Linked DNA regions of Homo sapiens. The protein of the gene in region 1 purifies or fractionates together with the protein of each later gene. This does not show direct contact. Each region holds a gene or a part of one and is shown on either strand. Other genes may lie near its edges.

What was found.
Region 2: the proteins of ODF2 (region 1) and PLOD1 purify together in Homo sapiens (affinity purification with mass spectrometry; 2 studies listed by BioGRID and IntAct, with this or other methods). This does not show direct contact.

Annotation. Positions count from the first base shown.
Region 1 is NC_000009.12:128,479,913-128,488,144, forward strand, and holds part of ODF2 (outer dense fiber protein 2), read left to right. Parts: intron 1-300; exon of another isoform or gene 301-904; intron 905-1,667; coding exon 1,668-1,739; intron 1,740-2,903; coding exon 2,904-2,975; intron 2,976-4,025; coding exon 4,026-4,142; intron 4,143-4,788; coding exon 4,789-4,974; intron 4,975-5,452; coding exon 5,453-5,562; intron 5,563-7,930; exon of another isoform or gene 7,931-7,977; coding exon 7,978-8,113; exon of another isoform or gene 8,114-8,232. UniProt on the Homo sapiens protein: Seems to be a major component of sperm tail outer dense fibers (ODF).
Region 2 is NC_000001.11:11,951,222-11,959,453, forward strand, and holds part of PLOD1 (procollagen-lysine,2-oxoglutarate 5-dioxygenase 1 isoform 2 precursor), read left to right. Parts: intron 1-1,401; coding exon 1,402-1,514; intron 1,515-3,608; coding exon 3,609-3,672; intron 3,673-5,695; coding exon 5,696-5,793; intron 5,794-6,620; coding exon 6,621-6,722; intron 6,723-7,294; coding exon 7,295-7,426; intron 7,427-8,232. UniProt on the Homo sapiens protein: Part of a complex composed of PLOD1, P3H3 and P3H4 that catalyzes hydroxylation of lysine residues in collagen alpha chains and is required for normal assembly and cross-linkling of collagen fibrils.

The DNA.
Region 1 (8,232 bases):
TGATGGTTGTACAGTATTATGAATATACTAAATGCCACTGAATTTTACGCTTAAAAATGGTTAGCCAGGTGTGGTGGCACACACCTGTGGTCCCAGCTACTGAGGAGGCTGAGGTGGGAGGATCACTTGAGTCCAGGATATCAAGGTTGCAGTGAGCTATGATCCATGATTACAACATGCACTCCAGCTTGGGTGACAGAGCTAGACTGTGTCTCTAAAAGAAATAAAAAGGTTAAAATGACAAGTTTTATGTTACATATATTTTACCACAATTTTTAAAAGTTAATAATGGAATATACCAAAGCCATTTAATTGTATACTTTATTTTTTCTTCTAGCTTTATTGAGGTATATTTGACAAACAGAAGTAGTATACATTTTAAGATGTTCATCGTGATGATTTGATACCCATATACATTGTAAAGTGACCACCTCAATCAAGCTGATTAACACATCCATCACGTCACATGGTTACCTTTTTGTGTGTGTGTGGTGACAACACTTAAGATCTCCTAGCAGATTTCAAGTATATAATACATCATTAATTATAGTCACCATGCTGTACACTTTAAATGGTGTTCAAATTTATATCTCAATAAAGCTGTTTTTAAAAATCAAGTAACAGCTGGGCATGGTGGCTCACGCCTGTAATCCCAGCACTTTGGGAGGCCAAGGCGGGCAGATCACCTGAGGTCAGGAGTTTGAGACCAGCCTGGCTAACATGGTGAAACCCTGTCTCTGCTAAAAATACAAAAATTAGCCGGGCGTGGTGGCAGTTATCTGTAATCCCAGCTACTCGGGAGGCTGAGGCAGGAGAATCGCTTGAACCTGGGAGGCAGAGGTTGCAGTGAGCCGAGATCGTGCCATCGCACTCCAGCCTGGGGGACAAGAGCGAGACTTCCTCTCTAAAAAATAAAAAAAATTAAAAAAAATTAACACATAAATACAATATGATATTATTTTCCTAAAGTTACACATGAATCCCTTTCCCCTTCCCCCAGAGACAAACAGTATTTCTCTTGATGCAGCAAAATGCTGTTTCATTACAGAGAAACAGTATTTCAATACAGTATTCTGTACAGTATTTTCAATACAGAGAAATACAGTATTTCTCTGTAGATGTAGAGAAAAAGGATGGGAAGGATACTCCTCAAACTAATAGCAGTAGGGTAGGGTTTGGAGGTGGGTACAGGAGGAACTGTAGCTTTATTAGCATTCACTATTTTATAGTGAGAATATATTCACATTACTTTTCAAATTAGAACTACAGTTTTTTGGGCCAGGTGTGGTGGCTCACACCTGTAATCCCAGCACTTGGGGAGGCCAAAGCAGGCAGATTGTTTGAACCCAGGAGTTCAAGACCAGCCTGGGCAAACAGGGAGACCCTCCAACTCTACAAATAATAATAATGTTTAAAAAGTTGGGCATGGTAGTGCATGCTTGTTGTTCCAGCTACTTTGGAGGCTGAGATGGGAGGATGGCTTGAGCCCAGAAGGACCAGGCTGCAGTGAGCCATGATTGCACCACTGCACTCCAGCCTGGGCAACAGAGTAAGACTCTAAAAAAAAAAAAAAATACAATTTTTGGAAAAGGTAAAGAATCAATAAAATGTAGACATCTGGGTTTATTGCTTAATGACTTGACTTTTTCCTTTGCCTTTCTTTGAAGGATTCTGAAAGACTAATGGAGCAACAAGGAGCACTGCTGAAACGGCTGGCGGAGGCCGACTCAGAGAAAGCGGTAACTAAGGCTGCCCTTGTCTACTCTAGTGGGTACAGGTGGCAAGAGCGTCGTTCCACTACAAAGTGTAGAGGTGCTTGGATCAAGGCAGGAGGGCTGGAGCATTTCGCTAGGTCTTAGTTTCACGATCTGTAAAATGGGCTGATGTCCTCCTGTCACGCTTGTTCTGATAGGCTTGTCTAGTTAGTTACTTGAGACCTTGAGCCACAAAGCTGGACACCAACATAGAGAGGGTAATGATGATGTTGGATTTGTAAATCATCCGTGTCTGTTAAAGCTGGATTTCCATCAAATTAGTATTATGGATTCAAAGCCATCAAAAAGTACACACCTTTGGACTCAGTAATCCTAATTCTAGGAATCTCTCCCAAAGCAGCATGTTCCAAAGTCTGTTCATGGAACCCTAAGTTCCTCAAGATGTTAATGAGTGCAAGAAACCGAAGGGGAGGTTCCATAGCCAGTTAAATTTGGGAAACCATAGGCTGGCCTGAACATGAAGTTCAACAGCTTCTTTCAAGACTTTTTTGGAGTGTCTGCTGTATTAATGCTTTTGTAAGTCTCCAAGAGAGGGGAGGGAGACGGAGGCCCAGTTTCCCAAGGTGTGGTCTGTGGCCTCTGATGCTTAGTTGAGGAAGGAGTGGAGATGCAGCAAGCTCGGCGATAATGCCTAAATGTGCATTCCCAGCTCAAGAACCCTTGTTAAGTTATGATATACATCAGTAACTTGAACCGTCAAGCAGCTCTTTCAAAAGACACAGAAGATTTAATCACATTATGGTAAACATGAGCTTTTAGGCTATGGAACGAAGTAGGCATATGACTTTTTTTTTTTAACGGTGCTGAGCATATGAGTTTCAATGTGCATTAACTGGTTATCTCTGCATGGGGGGTTACGGGGTTTCTTTGGAGGATTTTTTTGGTGTGTTCTCAATGTTTTCTACAGTTAACATTGCTGTTCTTAAATTGCAAAATAAATACATGTTCATTGTTTTAAAAAAATGTTTTAATGCATATGTTAGGTGCTTCCTACCAGAATCTCTGACATGGGCCAATGTATGTAGGACCTTGGGCCCCAGTGGCCAGGTACTCACAAATCTCTGTCCTCCCTGGGCCGGGCCTCTTTGCCCTTCCCAGGGGCACCTGACAGCCTGTGTTCTCTCCCAGCGCCTGCTGTTACTGCTGCAAGACAAGGACAAGGAGGTGGAAGAGCTCCTTCAGGAAATACAATGTGAGAAGGTAGTGTGCTTTTTTTTTTTTTTTTTTTAGACGGAGTCTCGCTCTGTCGCCAGGCTGGAGTGCAATGGCGCGATCTCAGCTCGCTGCAACCTCTGCCTCCCGGATTTGAGTGATTCTCCTGCCTCAGCCTCCCGAGTAGCTGGGACTACAGGCGTGCGCCACCACGCCCAGCTAATTTTTGTATTTTTAGTAGAGACGGGGTTTCACCATGTTGGCCAGGATGGTCTTGATCTCTTGACCTCGTGATCTGCCTGCCTCGGCCTCCCAAAGTGCTGGATTACAGGCATGAGCCACTGCGCCCAGCCGCAGTTGTGCATTTTTATGAGCCAGTAGAATATAATGGATATGCAGAGAGCTGGGTTCAAATCCTGTCTTTGGGCCGGGTGCAGTAGCTCATGTCTGGCACTTTTTCGAGACCAGCCTAGGCCACTCCCTAGCACTTTGGGAGGCCAATGCAGGAGGACTCATTGAGGCCAGGAGTTTGAGACTGTCCTGGGCAACACAGGGAGACCCCATCTCTACAAAATTAAAATTAAAATTAAAAAATCAGCCAGGTGTGGTGGCATGCACCTGTAGTTCCAGCTACTCTGGATGCTGAGATGGGAGGATCACTTGAGCCTGGGAGACTGAGGCTGCAATGAGTCATGGTCACGCCACTGCACTCCAGCCTTGGCAACAGTGATACCCTGTCTCAAAAAAAAAAAAAAAAATTATTGACCATGCGCGGTGGCTCACGCCTGTAATCCCAGCACTTTGGGAGGCCGAGGCAGGTGGATCACTTGAGGTCAGGAGATCGAGACCAGTCTGGCCAACATGGTGAAACCCTGTCTCTACTAAAAATACAAAAAACTAGCCGGTTTTGATGGCACGTGACTGTAACCCCAGCTACTCAGGAGGCTGAGGCGGGAGAATCGCTGGAGCCCAAGAGGTGGAGGTTGCAGTGAGCTGAGATTGCGCCACTGCACTCCAGCCTGGGAAACGGAGCAAGACTCCGTATGAAAAAAACAAACAAAAAATTGTGCCTCCATCACTTTTTCCGTCTCTCCACAGGCTCAAGCAAAGACAGCCTCTGAGCTTTCTAAATCCATGGAGTCCATGCGTGGGCATTTGCAGGCACAGCTTCGGTCCAAAGAGGCTGAGAACAGTCGCCTGTGCATGCAGATTAAGGTACCTATTGGCCCCACAAGTGGGGAAAGAGGAGGCAAGGGCCTGCCAATTTGATGGTAGCGGCCTGGCCCAGATATCACACTCAGGAAGTGTGCCTCCAAAGGTTTCTGAGGCAGCTGATGACAAAATACTCAGGCCTCAGAGACATTCCAGGACAGTGGCAAGAGCAATGGACAGAGACCCAGGAGGTGTTGGGCATCCTTCCCAACAGTGACGGGGTTGCGTGCCATGCCCCCCAGGCCTATCACTTAATCCCCTAGGCCCTCAGTTCTCCTCATTACCCAAGGGAAAGGGATGGTCTCTTTGTAGCCCAGGGGTCCTCTGAGGTCATACTCTGCTGAGTGACCAAGGAACTATCTCTGACCACAAGGCTGGGAGTTCAGGGAAGGATTCCAGAGCAGTTCTGACCTAATATCAAGACCCCATGGGCTGAGAGATCCAGGGAGGTGTCGTGGGGAGCTGGGAGGGACTGTGTCTCTGGTCCGAGTTAGGGGAGCCTCTCACACAGCTAAGCACTTTTTTCTGTCTTCCTCGTTTCCTCTTTGCTCTTGCCTTTTCCTCCCTTTCTCCTTCACCCTCTGCTTTGCCTTCCCACAACCTCCTTGTCTCTCTTCTCCCTCTCTTTCTCACCCCTTCCCCCTTCCAGAATCTGGAGCGCAGCGGGAATCAGCATAAGGCAGAAGTGGAGGCCATCATGGAGCAGCTGAAGGAGTTGAAGCAGAAGGGAGACCGAGACAAAGAGAGCTTGAAGAAGGCCATCCGAGCCCAGAAGGAGCGAGCCGAGAAGAGCGAGGAGTATGCTGAGCAGCTACACGTGCAACTCGCTGACAAGGTCGCAGGCCCGCGGTGCCCAGCTCCTCACCTGCCCTGAGGAGGGCTGGGTGATGGCAGAGGGGTGGTCAGCCAGATGGGTAGCGGGGAGGGGTGGGTGGATGAGGGATGGTAGTGGTGGAAAGGATAGATGGCTGGGGAGGAGGGAGAGGGAGTTAAGGGGATCAAATGGGTAAAAGCTGGAGGGATGGGTGGCTGGAGATGATTGGAGGCTTTGTAGGAGAGTTCAGCCACATCAGCTTTGTGGGTGAGAATAATGGTTAAGGAAGGATTTACAAACAGGATGCATTTGATTGCTAGAAATCTGGGAGCACTAGCTGGGCTCCCACTGTTGCTTCCAGCGCCCTCTAGAAAGGTGAATTCCAGAATGAGGTTTAGGTTACCAGGGTGAGAAACCACCTAGGATGAGCCCGCTCCCAGCTCCTGGCAGCCTCACCACTGACACTAGGCTAACAGGCCCTTTTGTCCCGTGTTCCCAGGATCTTTATGTCGCTGAAGCTTTATCCACTCTGGAATCCTGGAGGAGCCGCTACAACCAAGTTGTAAAAGAAAAGGGAGACCTTGAGCTGGAAATTATTGTCCTGAATGAGTACGTCTTAGAGTAGGAGAGGGAATGTGGCGCTGTTGAGGGACTTGGGTGTGCAGGTGGGAGGGGCCTAGTGGCTCAGGGAAGGCCACGTGGCTGCTGTTTGTACTCTCCGGGTTGGGGGCTGCACTGGGCTGTGATGTGGGTAGCCCTGAGCTGGGCTTTCTGGTTGGAGCTGGGGTGCAAGCTCTGGCCCTAGTCCTGGGGTCCTACCCTACTGTCAGGCACTGGCTAGGGGCCGGGTCTTTCTGGTCAGAGGTGTGGGTCTGACTTCATCACCTGGGCCTGATCCTGTCCTCAGTCTACACAGCATTTGAAATGGGCACCGTGGTGTCCTCATTCCTATTGGGGAATGGGGCAGATGGTGACCCGAGTGTCTTCTCTCTGTTGTCTGTCCAGGGACAGCAGCTGTTTGCCAGTGCCTGCCAGTCAGTAGGTCAGTGGTATGGCATGGGAGTAGGGGGCAAAAGTGGCCTCAATTTGCAAGTGACTGAGCTGACACCTTTCTTGCCACTGGCGAACTGTGAATAGTGACCATTCCATCATTCTCCTTTTTTCCTTCATTTATTGGAAAAACATATATTGAGCATCTACCATATACCAAGCTGCTGTGTGCTGGCCACCAGGGTTACAGCAGTAAGAAGACAAATGCATTCCCTGCCCTCTACTCTGTAGAGGAGATAGGGCTACAAGAGGCATGGACTCCCTGGACTAAGGATAGGTCATGGGGGAGCTCATTTAATCTCCCAGGTCAGGAAAGTCTCTTACTGTATTCAACTCAACTTAGCAAACATGTTCTGAGAACTCACTATGTGCCAGGCTCTATGCCAGCTGCTGTCCTTAGGGAGTTCTCTGTCTAGTGGGAGAACATAGATACCTAAGACAGAAGCATACATGGTACAGGGGAGGGGTCAGGGACAAGATGTCTTGAAGTCTGAACTGGGTTTTTAAGTGTGAGTAGGAGTTTGCCAGGTAAACTGGAGTTGCCAGCAAACTGATATGTTTGCTTGGGCCTAGTCAGTGTTCAGTGGTGGACTGTAATTGGTCAATACTGAGAGCACATATTGTGCAAAGGGTTTTTGATGGGTCTGTGGTCAAGATAGAGGAGTAAGCACCTGTGAGCCCCAGGGCTCCTCTTGAGGCCACAGTCTCTGCTCTTTGACTGATGATGGCCTTGCTGAGTGACTGAGGCAGCAGCAGGGAGCAGAAGGGACTGGGGGTGGGGCAGGCAGCTGGCTTCTAAGTTGGCGTCTTTCTATTTGTGCCTTTTTCCCACACCACACTCATTGCCGTTCCTGCCTGTGTTAGGTGAGTGTTCATATGTGAATGAGCAATCATGGCACCAGCCCCCTGCTGGGGGTACAAAAGCCCAGGGTGCTCAGGGCCCTGCTGGAGAGGAATGCCTGGGTGATAATCCCTGACCACCAGCCTGGGAGTCCAAGAAGGGATTCCAGAAGCGTCTGTCCTAACACCAAGACCTGATAGGCAGAGAGATTCCAGGAGGTGTCATAGGGAGTTGGGAAGGGATCATGTCTCTGGTCCTTGCCTTCAAAGGGTATCTTGGCCTTATGAGAGGATCAAGATGGGTACACATCCCTCTCTCTCTCTCTCTCTTTTTTTTCTTAATGGAGACAAGGTCTTGCTCCTTCACCCAGGCTATAGTGCAGTGGCACCAGCATAGCTCACTGCAACCTTCAACTGCTGGGCTCAAGCAATCCTCCCACCTTGGCCTCCCAAAGCACTGGGATTACAGGTGTGAGCTGCCACACCCAGCCCACACTTCTCTTAATAAGTCATTGCTTATTGTTGAATTGTAGATGGTTTCTTGGAGGGGGAGGTATGGGAGACACATCTTAACGGACGTCGTTCAGAGGTGGGACAGGCATGGGAGTACCACAGCAGCAATGCCAAGGCAGGGCAGCAGAGTTGCTTCTCAGTGTGGAGATTGGGGAGCAGGCAGGCAGTATATTGAGTGATGAGAACGCTGGGTCCCACACCACACAAAGACCTGGGTTCTTTAGAACCTGTGTAATTGGCCGGGTGCGGTGGCTCACACCTGTAATCCCAGCATTTTGGGAGGCCGAGGCGGGCAGATCACGAGGTCAGGAGATCGAGACCATCCTGGCTAACACGGTGAAACCCCGTCTCTACTAAAAATACAAGAACTTAGCCGGGCGTGGCGGTGGGCGCCTGTAGTCCCAGCTACTCGGGAGGCTGAGGCAGGAGAATGGCATGAACACGGGAGGCGGAGCTTGCAGTGAGCCAAGATCGCGCCACTGCACTCCAGCCTAGGTGACAGAGCGAGACTCCGTCTAAAAAAACAAACAAACAAAACACACACACACACACACACACACACACACAAACAAACCTGTGTAATTGATTCTCTCTGTCTGCTTTCACTTTGTGATCTTCCAGCCGGGTAACAGATCTTGTAAACCAACAACAAACCCTGGAGGAGAAGATGCGGGAAGACCGGGATAGCCTGGTGGAGAGACTACACCGTCAGACTGCTGAGTATTCCGCATTCAAGCTGGAGAATGAGAGGCTGAAGGTTCGCAGTGAGAGCTGGGGACCAGGCAGCTGGATGGGGCCCAGCGAGCTGATGAGGGGTCTTGTCTTACGTGGGCCTGGGGGCATCTTGACTAAGAGGGAGTCAGAAAAGCCTGGATT
Region 2 (8,232 bases), on another chromosome or scaffold:
ATGCCCTTCCAGGCCATTCTCCATCCAGCAGCCAGAGGTGTCTTTAAACGATGCAAATCCAAGGCCAGGCGCGGTGGCTCACGCCTGTAATGTCAGCACTTTGGGAAGCCGAGGTGGGAGGATCACTTGAGGCCAGGAGTTCAAGACCAGCCTGGCCAACATGGCGAAACCCCATCTCTACTAAAAATATAAAAGGTAGCCGGGCGTGGTGGTACACGCCTGTAATCCCAGCTACTTGGGAAGCTGAGGCAGGAGAATCTCTTGAACCCAGGAGGTAGAGGTTGCAGTGAGCTGAGATGGTGCCACTGCACTCAAAAAAATAAATAATTTTTTTAAATAAAAAATAATACTATATTTTTTTATAATGTAAAATATATTATATATATTATATATAATAATTTATATAATATATATAATATATATATTGGTGGCTCATGCCTGTAATCTCAGCACTTTGGGAGGCCGAGGTGGGCGGATCACGAGGTCAGGAGATCGAGACCATCCTGGCTAACACGATGAAACCCCGTCTCCACTAAAAATACAAAAAATTAGCCAGGTGTGGTGGCAGGCGCCTGTAGTCCCAGCTACTCGGGAGGCTGAGGCAGGAGAATGGCATGAACCCGGGAGGCGGAGCTTGCAGTGAGCCGAGATCGTGCCACTGCACTCCAGCCTGGGCGACAGAGCGAGACATTGTCTTAAAAATAAATAAATAAATAAAGATGCAAATTCACACACATCACTTAATGACTTTCCACTGCACGGAGAATAAAATCCACAGGCCTCTTTTCAACCTTAGATGGGGATCTGCCATCTGCCCTCAACAGACACTTTTTTCCACTGGTCCAGAGTAAGCACAGTCCAGATGGCCTTGCCCTGGCCCAGGCCCAGGAGTAGGGATGTCCCATTGCTCTTGTGGTTGCTTGTCACCAGTCTGTACTCTAGCCAGGGGCCCATGTGGGCTTCCCCACTATGCCAGGTCTCAGCCCCCAAGGCACTCTGTGAGCTTGGCCCAGCCTTTCCCTTCTCTGGGCCAGGTTTCCCAGATAACTGTAAAAAGGGACACCAGGCCTGTATCCTCCCAGCCCTGCTCTCCAGGGGCTCCTCGTACAATCCGTTTCTTCACCACCTATATGGTGCCCAGCACTGAACAGTACAGCTTAGTGGGCACCATTGGTCTTATTCTTGGGGTCATTAGGAACTCATTAATAAGTGACATTCACTGGCAGCCCCATTTCCAACCTGCAGCCCCACCTCCTGTCAATTCAGGAGGACTTCTGAGAGGTGACAGGGTTTGTGGGCATATGAGTGGAGGTGGATAAGAGGGAAGGGTGGGAGGAGGCCCCTGACTTAGAGGCTGGAAGCTAAGGGTCCGTCTTGGTGTCCCCACCCACCAACCTTCAGGCTTCATCGGTTATGCCCCCAACCTCAGCAAACTGGTGGCCGAGTGGGAGGGCCAGGACAGCGACAGCGATCAGCTGTTTTACACCAAGATCTTCTTGGACCCGGAGAAGAGGGTAAGAGGCAGTGGGCGGGCCAAGGAGAGGGGGCTGGGGATCCACCGGCCAGGCTGCACGGGAACAGCTCCTCTCAGGCCTGAACCCCTGGGTTGGTGTCTTAGTCTATGCAGGCTGCTCTGACAAACTGCCATAGGCTGGGTGGCTCCCAAACAACGGATGTGGATTTCTCATGGTTCTGGAGGCCGGAAGGGTGAGATCACAGTTGGGTTCTGGTCAGAGCCCTCTAACTGGTACAGACACAGCTGACTTCTCTCTGTGTCCTCAGATGGTGGAAGGGGGTAGGGAGCTCACTGGGGCCTCATTGATAAGGACACTAATCCTATTTTTTTATTTTTGGGATGGAGTCTCACTGTATTGCCCAGGCTAGAGTACAGTGGTGCGATCTCGGCTCACTACAGCCTCTACCTCCCTGGTTCAAGCGATTCTCGAGCCTCAGCGTCTCGAGTAGCGGGGACTACAGGCGTGCACCACCACGTTTGGCTGATTTTTGTATTTTTAGTAGAGACAGGGTTTCACTACGTTCGCCAGGCTGGTCTCGAACTCCTGTCCTCAGGTGATTTACCCGCCTCGGCCTCTCAAAGTGCTGGGATTACAGTCGTGAGCCACCGTGCCCGGCTGTCGGGTCTTAAAGAGGCAGCATTGTTCATTGGTTCAGAATAAGGACTTCAGGGCCAGGCTGCCTGGGTTCCAATCCCAGCTCACCATTTACTAGCTGTGTGACATTGGGCAACTTCTCTGTCCCTTGTTTTTTCCGTTATGAAATGCAATAATGGGCCAGACCCAGTGGCTCATGCCTGTAATCCCAGCACTTTGGAGGCCAAAGCGGGTGGATCACCTGAGGTCAGGAGTTTGAGACCAGCCTGGCCAACATGATGAAACCCTGTCTCTACTAAAAATATAAAGATTAGCCGTGCGTGGTGGTGGGTGCCTGTAATCCCAGCTACTCAGGAGGCTGAGGCAGGAGAATTGCTTGGACCTGGGAGGCGGAGGTTGCAGTGAGCCGAGATTGTGCCATTGCACTGCAGCCTGGGTGACAAGAGCCAGACTCCATCTCAAAAAAAAAAGCAATAATGATAATACTTTCTCACAGAGATGTTGTCAGGATTAAATTGATTAATATATGTAGAATAGTTTATTTATTTATTTGAGACAGGGTCTCACTGTCACCCAGGCTGATGCGCAGTGGCAGAAACATAGCTCACTGCAGCCTCAGCCTCCCGGACTCAAGCGATCCTCCCACCTCAGCCTCCTGAGTAGCTGGGACTATAGGCCTGCGTCACCATGTCTGGCTAATTTTAAGATTTTTTTATAGAGATGAAGTTTTGCTATGTTGCCCAAGCTGGTCTCAAACTCCTGGGCTCAAGTGATCCTTCTGCCTCAGCCTCCCAAAGTGCTGGAATGACAGGAGTGAGCCACCGCACCCGACTCGTGTAGAATATTTGGAGTAGCGGCCAGGTGCGGTGGCTCACACCTGTCATCCCAGCACTTTGGGAGGCGGGGGGCGGGGGCGGATCACCTGAGGTCAGGAGTTCGAGACCAGCCTGCTCAATGTGGTGAAATCCCATCTCTAGCAAAAAAAAAAAAAAAAAAAAAAAAAATTAGCTGGGTATGGTGGCACATGCCCGTAGTCCCAGCTACTCAGGAGTCTGAGGCAGGAGAATCGCTTGAACCCAGGAGGCGGAGGTTGCAGTGAGTCGAGGTCGTGCCATTGCACTCCAGCCTGGGTGACAAGAGCGAAACTCTTTCTCAAAAAAAAGAATATTTGGAGTAGCTATGTGCGTGTAGTGGAGTGCTTGGCAGGTGCTGGTTACTCTTAACGGCCGTCATTGTTGTAGGTGAGCCGGCTGCATTCTTAGATTCCTTCCAGTTCAGAGTCCCTGGTTTTCTGTGAGTAGAGCCACTAGACTGTAGACCCCAGGAGCTTGGCTGCTGGCCTTCTCTGGGCACCTAGCTGCCCTGATGTGACGTGGCAGAGTCGGTGTGGGGAATGAGGGCTGAACTTGGGGACAGATTCCCCACACTGGGTGAGATGTAGCCCCAGCCTCCCCCAGGGCCTGTCCCTGCTGCAGTCTGGTACCTTCTTTCCTGCAGGAGCAGATCAATATCACCCTGGACCACCGCTGCCGTATCTTCCAGAACCTGGATGGAGCCTTGGGTGAGCAGCCCCCACGGGGAGGGGTGGATCCTCAGAGGGGTGATAGGAAGAATTCCAGGCAGGGCCCGAGCCCAGGGAGGAGAAATGGGCTGCTTCTTTCTGGCCATTGTGCTGAGAGGTCACTGGCCTCATCCCCAGGTCCCCAGGGGCCACTTGGATATCCTGGCGCAGAGCCATGTCTCTCTTGGGGGCGGGGGACAAGTGAGCATTCAGCCTGGGAGGAGTTGGGGGATGCGCACAGCAGGTGCTGGACCCCCTGCCCTGCATACCAGGTCCTTACAGGTGGGCCCTCTTTCCCCACTTTCCCGGCCCTCCCACCTTCCAGGTGAAGGAGTCCTGGGCTAGGGGCAGGAACTCAGCTGGTGGGACAGGCAGCTTGGGAAGCAAAAGGCTACTTGACCCTTGATGCCGCAAACATCCCTGGGCCTGGCCTCATGTCTGTGGCTGGTGATGACATTGCTTTGCCGCAGGTCTTCCTGTCTTCCTGAGTGACCTCAGGCAAGTCACACCTCCTCCCCACAGGGGACTCAGTTTTCTTATCTTTACAAAAGGGAAGTGAACCGGATCCACTGATTGCTGATTTTGTGGATAAATGGGCCCTTTTGAGAATCTGATGAAAGCTACGGCTCTGCTCCCAGAGAAACGCAGAAAATGCCCTTTGCCTGTGGTTTCTGGGGGTTAAGAAGCACTGAGTTCAGATCCACGCAGGTCAGGAGCTATCTGTTTTCCTTTTTTTTTCTTCTTTTTTAAGATGGAGTCTTGCTCCATCGCCCAGGCTGGAATGCAGTGGCGAATTCTCGACTCACTGCAACCTCCGCCTCCCAGGTTCAAGTGATTCTCCTGCCTCAGCCTCCCAAGTAGCTGGGATTACAGGCGCACACCACCATGCCCGGCTAATTTTTGTATTTTTTTAGTAGAGATGGGGTTTCACCATGTTGGCCAGGCTGGTCTCGAACTCCTGACCTCAGGTGATCCACCTGCCTTGGCCTCCCAAAGTGCTGAGATTACAGACGTGAGCCATCGTGCCCAGCCCTATTTTAATTTTTAAAATAGAGACAGGGTCTCACTATGTTGCGCAGGCTTGTCTCAAACTCCTGGGCTCAAGTGATCCTCCCACCTTGGCCTCCCAAAGTGCTGGGATTACAGGTGTGCGCCAGCGTGCCCAGCTGAAATACCCATTTTCCTATGTGCAGACTAATAGGGTCAAACATGGGTATTGGGGGCCAGGCACTGTAATCCCAGCACTTTGGGAGGCCAAGGCGGGTGGATCACCAGAGGTCATGAGTTCAAGACCAGCCTGACCAACATGGTGAAACCCCGTCTCTACTAAAAATACAAAAATTAGCTGGGTGTGGTGGCATGTGCCTGTAATCCCAGCTACTCAGGAGGCTGAGGCAGGAAAATCACTTGAACCTGGGAGGCGGAGGTTGCAGTGAGCCGAGATCATGCCACTACACTCCACACTGGGCAATAGAATGAGACTCCATTTCTAAAAAACAAAAAACAAAAACACACACAAAAAACATGAGTATTGGAACCCTGCTGCAGGGGCTCCCTCCACTGGGACAAGATCTGTCCTGATCATGCCCAGGCCTCCCCTGCATGTGGCTCTGGCATTTTCTCAGTGCTGCTCTGCCTACTCAGAGAAGGCGCGTCCCAGACCCTTTCTCTTGGGGCTTCTCTGAGGTGCCTGGAGCTGGGATGTTCCAGGTCTTCGTTCTTCTCCCAGCCCCTGCTTCTGACTGTAAGTAACCACAACAAGTACAGGGGTTGCCGTGGATTCTGTGCTCATGATGGGCCAGGCTTGGTGCCCCACGCTTGTTCAACACAAATCCTCCCCCTCACCCCATGAAGAAGGGATTATTCCTATTTTATAGATGAGGAAACTGAGGCTTAGAGAGAAGTGACTTGCCCGAGGACATAATCTACTCACTGCACAGCTGGGATTTGAGCCCAGCTGGTTGGACCCTGAGCCTGACCTCTGGGTCTGATGCTGGGTGGGACTGTGCTTTCTGACCCCCAGATGAGGTCGTGCTCAAGTTTGAAATGGGCCATGTGAGAGCGAGGAACCTGGCCTATGACACCCTCCCGGTCCTGATCCATGGCAACGGGCCAACCAAGGTAGGGGGTCCCCAGCCCCTGGGGAGTGTGGGAGGGGGCCAGAGCCCTAATTTCATTCTCACTGTGACCCCACAGTGTCTCCCTGGGGCCAGGGCCACCTTCCTGGGGCCTGCTATGAACTCACTGCCTCTGTCCTCACATCTGAGCTCAGCGTGATGCCTTCTTTTCCTGCTGTGGTGGTCAGTGGTACTCTGTCTGTTCTTGCTGGTCACAGGACACGTAGGAGGCTGCCATCCCCTTCCAGGCCTAGGCTGGGCTACCAGAGCCATCTGCACTGTCACCCCAGGGCAGAGTCACTTATTCACTCAGTAAACCTTTATTTCATGTTTGCACCAGACAGTAAGACATAGTCATAAGCAGGACGGATGTCCTGCATTCATGGTGACAGAAGGGACTGGGTGCAGATGCGGCCAGGGACAGAATGGACCTCACTGGTCCCTGGGGAACTGGCTCATAGCTCATAGCATATTTGAGTGTGGTCCTTCACCGCTGGAATGAGGGAGAGGAAGGAGGATGTGATGTGTTTAAAATGCAAATTTGCTGATTTCACCCAGGATCTGTTCAGATGGAATCTCTGAGCGGGGTGGGACCCAGGAATCTGCATTTTACAAGCTCTCGGGAGAAGCACTAGAGTGCCAAGCCCTCCCCTGCCCTCTCTCAGAGCGGCTTGGTGATCTCCTGGGGATGGAGCATTATCTCCAAGACCCTCTTAGGGAGTGGGAGGGGGCTGGATGGTGCTGACCCACTGGGGGCCCAGGGAGATGTGAGTCAGGGCTATGGCAGGTGGGGCTGGCTGGCTTCTCTGTGACCCCACGTCTCCCCGACAGCTGCAGTTGAACTACCTGGGCAACTACATCCCGCGCTTCTGGACCTTCGAAACAGGCTGCACCGTGTGTGACGAAGGCTTGCGCAGCCTCAAGGGCATTGGGGTGAGGCTGCGCCCAGGCCTGTGCCTGAGGGACACGGGGGGCTCAGTCCCCTGAGATGGCGAGATGGGTGATTCTGGAATAGACTCCATTGTCTTTGGTGGAAAGTGAAGGGGTCACCTCCCTGCCTGGGGTTCTATCCCGGTTGCCACCCAAGTGCCTCCTCCTGGAAGCCCTCTCAGATTGCATGTCTCTAGCTTCCCCCGAGATGTCCAGGTTCTGGTTTCTTCTGCCTGGTCCTTCAGGCTCTCCTGCAGCCCCCTCCCCATCCCATGAACCTCATCCTCATTTATGACTCACCTCGAACACCACGCCAGCCACGATCTCCTGACAGCAGGCCCTCAACCGAGTCCTTGTTCCAGGCCTGGGCTCCTGCTGCTCTCTCCCCGGGGCACCCTCCTGCTGCTTCCCTGCCCCCCCGTACCCCCTGACTGGAGTTCCCCGGCCCGGGCACCTTTCTTGGGAAGTCTACATGCTTCTGATTCTGGCTCTGACTCCCTTGGGCCACCCTGGGGTGGAGTGGCAGTGCTGTGACTGGACACTGCTGGACTCTTGTGCCGCCCTCCCTGGTGCAGGATGAAGCTCTGCCCACGGTCCTGGTCGGCGTGTTCATCGAACAGCCCACGCCGTTTGTGTCCCTGTTCTTCCAGCGGCTCCTGCGGCTCCACTACCCCCAGAAACACATGCGACTTTTCATCCACAACCACGTGAGTAACAGGCGCTCTGTGGGGTCGTCATGTGGCTTAGATCCAGGGCCCAGCTTCACAAGGTAGCCCGAGACCTCTGAGGGTCTCACCGAATCTAGCTTATCTGGGCCAAATGACAATCACCAGTGGACTGTGTCCCCAAATCACTGAGTTAACTTTGGAGTCAGACTGGGTGAGTTTGAATCCCAGCGCCGCTATTTTATTGGCTGTGTGACCTTGGGCACATTACTCAACCTCTCTGTGCTTTAGTTTCTCATCTATAAAATAGGCATAAAAGTCGGGCGCGGTGGCTCATGCCTGTAATCCCAGCACTTTGGGAGGCCCAGGTGGGCAGATTATCTGAGGTCGGGAGTTCGAGACTAGCCTGACCAACATGGTGAAACCCTGCCTCTACTAAAAATACAAAATTAAGCTGGGTGTGGTGGCAGATGCCTGTAATCCCAGCTACTCAGGAGGCTGAGGCAGGAGAATCGCTTGAACCTGGGAGGCAGAGGTTGCAGTGAGCCGAGATTGCGCCATTGCACTCCAGCCTGGACAACAAGAGCAAAACTCCGTCTCAAAAAAAATAAAAATAAATAAATAAATAAATAAAATAAAATAGGGATAATAATTGTGCAATCACACAGAATTGCTGCAAGGGCTAAGCAAGCTGACATGCGAAGTTCGTAAAAGGTGCCTGGTGCACAGGACGCATCTAGTTGCTTCTAACTGTTGTCATCTTCACTTCCATCCCTGTCACTGTTAATCCTTCCTACCTTCCTAATTGTACCTGGTGGCAGTCAAATTGGTTTTCTTTTCTTTTTTTT